Regions from separate parts of the Homo sapiens genome. Here region 2 is linked to region 1. The links come from fine-mapping of genetic effects on gene expression. A gene starts in region 1. The other region holds a variant in brackets. All regions are shown on one strand. Distances are between the middles of the regions.

Region 1 (2,742 bases):
CCCCCGCGACAGAGGCTCTTCAGAAAGGAAGTGAGGACTTCCTCCTGCTTACCTCTGAACCTCCTACAAGGCTGGCTCTAGACCCCAAACCCCAGGAGCCACAGGGCAACTAGGAGTGTCCTGTGCTCAGCCCAAGCCAAGAAACCAAATGGGTTATTTCAGAAATCCACCAGCAGGAAACAAACAAACCTGGGAGTGGGTGGGGATGAGTGCAGGAGAACCTCCTCAGCGCCCCTGCTGCTCCCTGCCCTTGGAGCAAGGTAATAAGGAAGGGCGGGCATGGAGCTGGAACATTTCAGCACATTTGCTTGCTTGCATGGAACTGGATCTCTGCTGCCCTGGCACTCTCGCAGCCTACATTACTCACATAGCAATTAATGGTGTGTAGCCTCTTGGCTTTCCACTATTACCAGTTCAGGACTGGTATTGAAACCCTGTATCGGGGAACTTTGTGTGTTTATGTCCTGTCTTGCCCCCAGGGGCTGAGCCTCCTGAGGACAGAATCCTCCAAATCCTCCTCCATCCACACATTCCAGGGGCACGGCCCAGTGCCCTTCCTGGCATTTAAGAGGTGCTCGGCCACTGGGTTCAGGTTACTCTACCCAGAAGCCAAGGAGTTGGTTCCTGGGCCTCTGGCTGGGAGAGTAGAGATGCCCAGAAGATTCCCTGGGCCATGAAGCTTTACTCCCATCTCTGACAACCCAAGAGAAAGGGCTCCAACCATCCCGGCCACCTTCAGGAGCCGGGTCTCCCATAGGCCACTCTCTCTCTGACAGGTTACTGCCCCTTCAGGAAAACCCTCTGAAACTGAAAAACGTACTCTCCTTGGAGACCCGGGCCTACAGAGGAAGAGGGCCAGACTGGGCCAAGAATCAAAGCCTGTGCCCGCTGAGACTTCTGGACTCGTCCTGGGTCTGAGGGCCTCACGCCCCCTAGAGATGAGTCCCAGGACCCCATCTCGGTCATGAAGCGGCTTCCCTCTCCCCAATCTCCCCCTAACTTCGCGGGAAACCCTAGCTCCTGGCCATGCTCCCAGGTCTGGCAATGAAAAGTGGAATTGTCACCAGGCCATGCCTACACCAAACCCAGGGAACTCGGGAGAGGGGGTAGCCCAGGGTCCAACACACACAACCACCCAGCAACTGCTCCCTGTGAGTCCCTCTTGCCTCCCAGGGACCAATCCTGAGCGGGTGTGGGGTGAAGGCCCAGGACCTCACCTCTCCAAAGGATGGGGAGTTGGTGTCTGGAGCAGCCTCGGGCTGGGGGGTGCCCGGGGGATTCCAGATTTGCCCTCCCCTCGCCAGCCCCAGGGCAGGACACTTCGGTACCTGCCAGCCCGCGGCTCCGGGGGGCATCCGTGCTCCTGCGGCCGGCGTGCTGCGCCCGAACTGCGGGCGCCGAGTCAGGCAGCGACGGGGCGCGCCCGGCGCGCGCTCTGGCTCCAGCTCGCTCCTCCCAACTTCGCCAGCCCATGCGGGGGCAGAGGTGGCTCCGGAGGTGGGCAGGCCAGGCGGACCCGGCGAGGCCACGCGAGAGGGAGCCCGTGCTCACCGGCGACGGGACCTGCGCGCCCCGGCCCGTGCGCGCCGCGCTGCTCCCCAGCGCCCCGCTACCCAACGCCGAGGGGCGGACCCGACCCGGCCGCCAATCACCGCGCCCGCCCCCGCCCGGACCGCGAGTCCCGGCCCCACCGCGAGGGGCGGGGGGCTCAGATTTAAAGACACACTCAGCCCAGCCGCAGCCCCCGGGCGGGAGGAACGCGGGCGCCACGTTCCCCGGCTGCGCTTCCTCCCTCCGCCCGCCCACCCTCCGCGAGGAGGAAAAGTTTGGGGCGGGGGAGACTGCCCGGGAAGCCAGTTCCTCTTCCCTCGTCGCTAGTGCGGCTCCTTCTGGAAGACACCCAAACCCGACATCCAGCCTCCTGGCTGCGAGAGGCAGCAGCGCTCTGGGCGCCACACCCCGTCCCGGACGCCGGCTACCCGCGACACCCGCTGGCCCGGCTTCCCTCGCCCCCCTCTGCTTTACAGCCAGGCCGAGCCTCGGCGGGACCGAGCCCAGCATCCGGGCTCCGGGCCGGCCTCGCTGTGCAGTGCGGCCGGAGCTGGATGATGGTGCGCTCTGCACTTTTGCCTCCCACGTGTCGAAGGGGAGCCCCTAAACAGCAGACGGTCCCCCCAAGCAGGGGCTTCTCCCACGCCCCGGGGTCCTAAGGAAACGCGCCCCTCGGCCCCCAGAGGTGAGAGGGGAACAGCAGAGCAGAGCTTTGGATGGAGAGGGGTCCCTCCGCCCCCACCCATCATGCGGCTCCAGGCAGTGACCCGCACCATAGGCCTGCCCCCCCCACCACTCCTCACCCCACACGCGCGGACTAGCACTAGGCGGCAGCCAGCCCGGCCCACTCCGACGGCCCCGCACGCCCCCGCGAGCACGTGGGTGAACGCACCCACGTGCGTGCGTTCACTCTTCGCTGTGCTTCCTCGCGGAGAGATAGGCTTTGTTGTGGTTGGTGAGTCACTTCCTCCCTCTCGCTGCTCCACACTCGGGAAATCCTTTTTTCTCACCTGTTACCACCTGCCTCACCCCCATTCAGGACTGGAGCTGGATTTCGGCGAGCTGGGGTTGCCCCAGGATGCAGGCAGTGTAGGCCCCACCTCTGTCAGGCTGGAGAGCGCTGGGCTGGGAGAGGGGAACACATTCCCCATGACCCCTAAGAATAACTGAAGACAAGAGAAATCACTCATT
Region 2 (3,008 bases), 68 kb before region 1:
GGCAAGAGCTGTTTCTGAGAATTGCTGGCCAGCAGTGGGGAACACATGGCTGGTACATATAGCCCTCTCTCAGCACCATGGAATCCTCACCCCCTACCCACCGGCTCCCACCACTGCCCCTCCCACTCAGCACCGGCCTCTGTTCCAGAAGCCAATCAGATTCAATGGGCCAGAGAGGAACAGAAGTGAATACTCCACACAGAGACCCAGGCCAAAAACTCCAGAGCCCACACTAGCCTGTGGTCATGGGACTGGTCCAGTAGGGCCGAGTGCAACAGAGCAGGGAGTATTGGGGACCCAGGCAGGCTTGAGGGCACATTCTTTCCAGATAGGCTGAAAATCCAGATGGTTACATGAAATCTGGACTATTATGAAACTTTTTTTTTTTTGAGGAGTCTCACTATCACCCAAGCTGGAGTGCAATGGCACGATCTTGGCTCACCGCAACCTCCGCCTCCCGGGTTCAAGCAATTCTCCTGTCTCAGCCTCCCGAGTAGCTGGGACTACAGGCGCCTGCCACCATGCCCGGCTAATTTTTGTATTTCAGTAGAGATGGAGTTTCACCATGTTGGCCAGTCTGGTCTCTGACTCCTGACCTCAGGTGGTCTGCCTGTCTCGGCCTCCTAAAGTGCTAGGATTACAGGGGTGAGCCACTGCACCTGGCCAAAACTTTATTTTTATAATGTAATGAGTTATTTAAAAACAATTTTTACAGATAAAAAACACCCCATCTGGGAGCCAGCCCCAGCCCCAGGGCAGCACAGACATACCCACGTCCTGAGATGACAGCCTCCGTGCTAGTTGTGAAACAGCCACCCCAAGACCCTGAGGGTCTCCACCCACCCACTACCTGACTCCTGTCTGGGACCTCTGGTCCCCCCGCCAGGACCCAGAAACAAGAGGGTTAACGCCTGGCACCACAGGGCTCCTGGGTGTTCACTCTGATTGGCCACATCCTTGATTGGTCCTAGGGCCACAGCAGTTGTTGAATGCTTTGAACATGGCCCCTGCATGCATCTCCCCTACCACTCCAGAATCTGGTACCCATACCAGTGGGTCGGGGCTGGGGATGTGTCCATCTCATGGATCACTTCCACTTCCAGAAGGTGGAAAAGTGACCACGAGCCAAGGAGGGGCCCCTAGGACCCCTAGCAACCCCAAAGCCACATCAGCCACTCCCTGGCTGTGCACACCTGGAAGGGTGGCTGGGGCAGGGTGGGGTGGGGTGGGGTGGGGGCTCACCTGGCGGTAGGTGCAGATGATGATCTCCCGCAGGTGGTAGTGCATGGGCGTCATGGTCTCGCTGACAGTGTCCAGCGCTGCGTCCACCTCCTTCTTCACACGGTGCCCATCGGGTAGCAGCTGCACCACCTTCATTACTACCTGGGGCCAGAGAAGGGGGGTGAGCAGACATAAAACTGGTAAGAGCCCTCAGCCCAAGCACCAGGCTTGCACCCTCACCAAAAGGCCACACCAGGCCTAAGGCCCAGGCGCTGAACAGAGAGCCCTGCCTGCTCCTCAGTTCTCAGACTGAGGGAGGACAGGGGGATCCTGAACATCTCCGGGGCCAGGCTACCCAGATGCTTTTCTTTTTCCTCCACAATTGGGATTTATTGGTTGTG[T/C]TGAGGATCAGTACACAGACATTGAATTTGTACCGAATATCTAAAAAAGGCATGGATTATGATTCCTTTTTAGTTATTCCATTGACATTTATTGTTGTTGTTGTTGTTGTTGTTTGGAGACAGAGTCTCACTCTGTCATCCAGGCAGGAGTGCAGTGGCATGATCAGGGCTTACTGAAGCCTCAACTTCCTGGATTCAGGTGATCCTCCTACCCCAGCCTCCTGAGCTGCTGGGACTAAAGGCCCATGCCACCACGCCTGGCTAATATCTTGTACTTTTAGTAGAAACGGGGTTTTGGCATGTTGCCCAGGCTAATCTCGAACTCCTGGGCTAAAGCAATCCACACCCTTGGCCTCCCAAAGTGCTGGAAAGTTATTCCATTAACTTTCCAGCTTAAAATTTGGAGGCAAATTGTTCTTTAAGAAGATATTAAGTACCAGTATTTTCAAGTGTTGATAAACTGTGGCATAAGCCCCACCAATCCACAACTTAATGTCTTGCACACTACACAGATTTTCAGTGTCCAAGCACATCAATAGAGTTACTAGGAAAACGGGACTGCCACAGCCAAAGACATCACAGAGTGCACACAGTTCTCACAGGAGAGCCACAATCAAGAAGTGGTTTACATTAGAAATAATTCTACAAAAAAAACCATGGGAATATAAGTCATTTAAGATGTTCAAGACATATTAAATGCACGACTGTGACTCCAAATTGCCATTTTGTATGCTTTGTATTACATGATACAAAAACCACCCCAATGCACCCATGGAATGTTAAGCTGATCTAAGGTGCTTATTTTTGTTTTGTTTTGTTTTGTTTTGCTTGAGATGGAGTCTCGCCCTGTCACCCAGTCTGGAGTGTAGTGGTGAGATCTCGGCTCACTGCAACCTCTGCCTCTTAGGTTCAAGAAATTCTCCCGCCTCAGCCTCCCGAGTAGCTGGGATTACAGGCACCTGCCACCGCACCCAGCTAATTTTTGTATTTTTAGTAGAGACAGGGTTTCACCATGTTGGCCAGGCTGGTCTTGAACTCCTGGCCTCAGGTGATCCACCCGCCTAAGTCTCCCAAAGTGCTGGGATTACAGGCATGAGCCACCACGCCTGGTCGAGGTGCTTATTTTTTAAGCAGTAGAAATCCTGCTTCAAATGAGGCCTCATGCAGAACTTTGATCTATAAAACAGATAGCTGTCACGTACTAGGGCTGGAGGGGTGAGGAGGGGGTGTAAGAAGCCTCCCCACCCTCCTCCTAACCTGCAGCAGCCCCCAGCCACTGCGCAGACGCTCAGAGTTGGACACCACTCATCTGATATAATTCCCCACCCCAGCCAGGTGCAGTGGCTCATACCTGTAATCCCAGCACTTTGGGAGGCCGAGGTGGGG

What was found.
Region 2: its variant is fine-mapped to the expression of PALD1 in testis (GTEx, PIP 0.99).

Annotation. Positions count from the first base shown.
Region 1 is chr10:70,477,646-70,480,387 of GRCh38, reverse strand. It overlaps PALD1 (phosphatase domain containing paladin 1), which reads right to left and starts at 1,621. Exons shown (of 20, transcript NM_014431.3): 1 at 1,329-1,621. RefSeq lists enhancers at 1-5, 1-291 and silencers at 1,286-1,735, 1,936-2,005.
Region 2 is chr10:70,545,681-70,548,688 of GRCh38, reverse strand. PALD1 (phosphatase domain containing paladin 1) reads right to left here. Exons shown (of 20, transcript NM_014431.3): 18 at 1,243-1,383. Among named protein-coding and RNA genes, the nearest start is that of PRF1, 56 kb to the left of the region's middle. The variant T/C (reference allele first, on the strand shown) is at 1,623.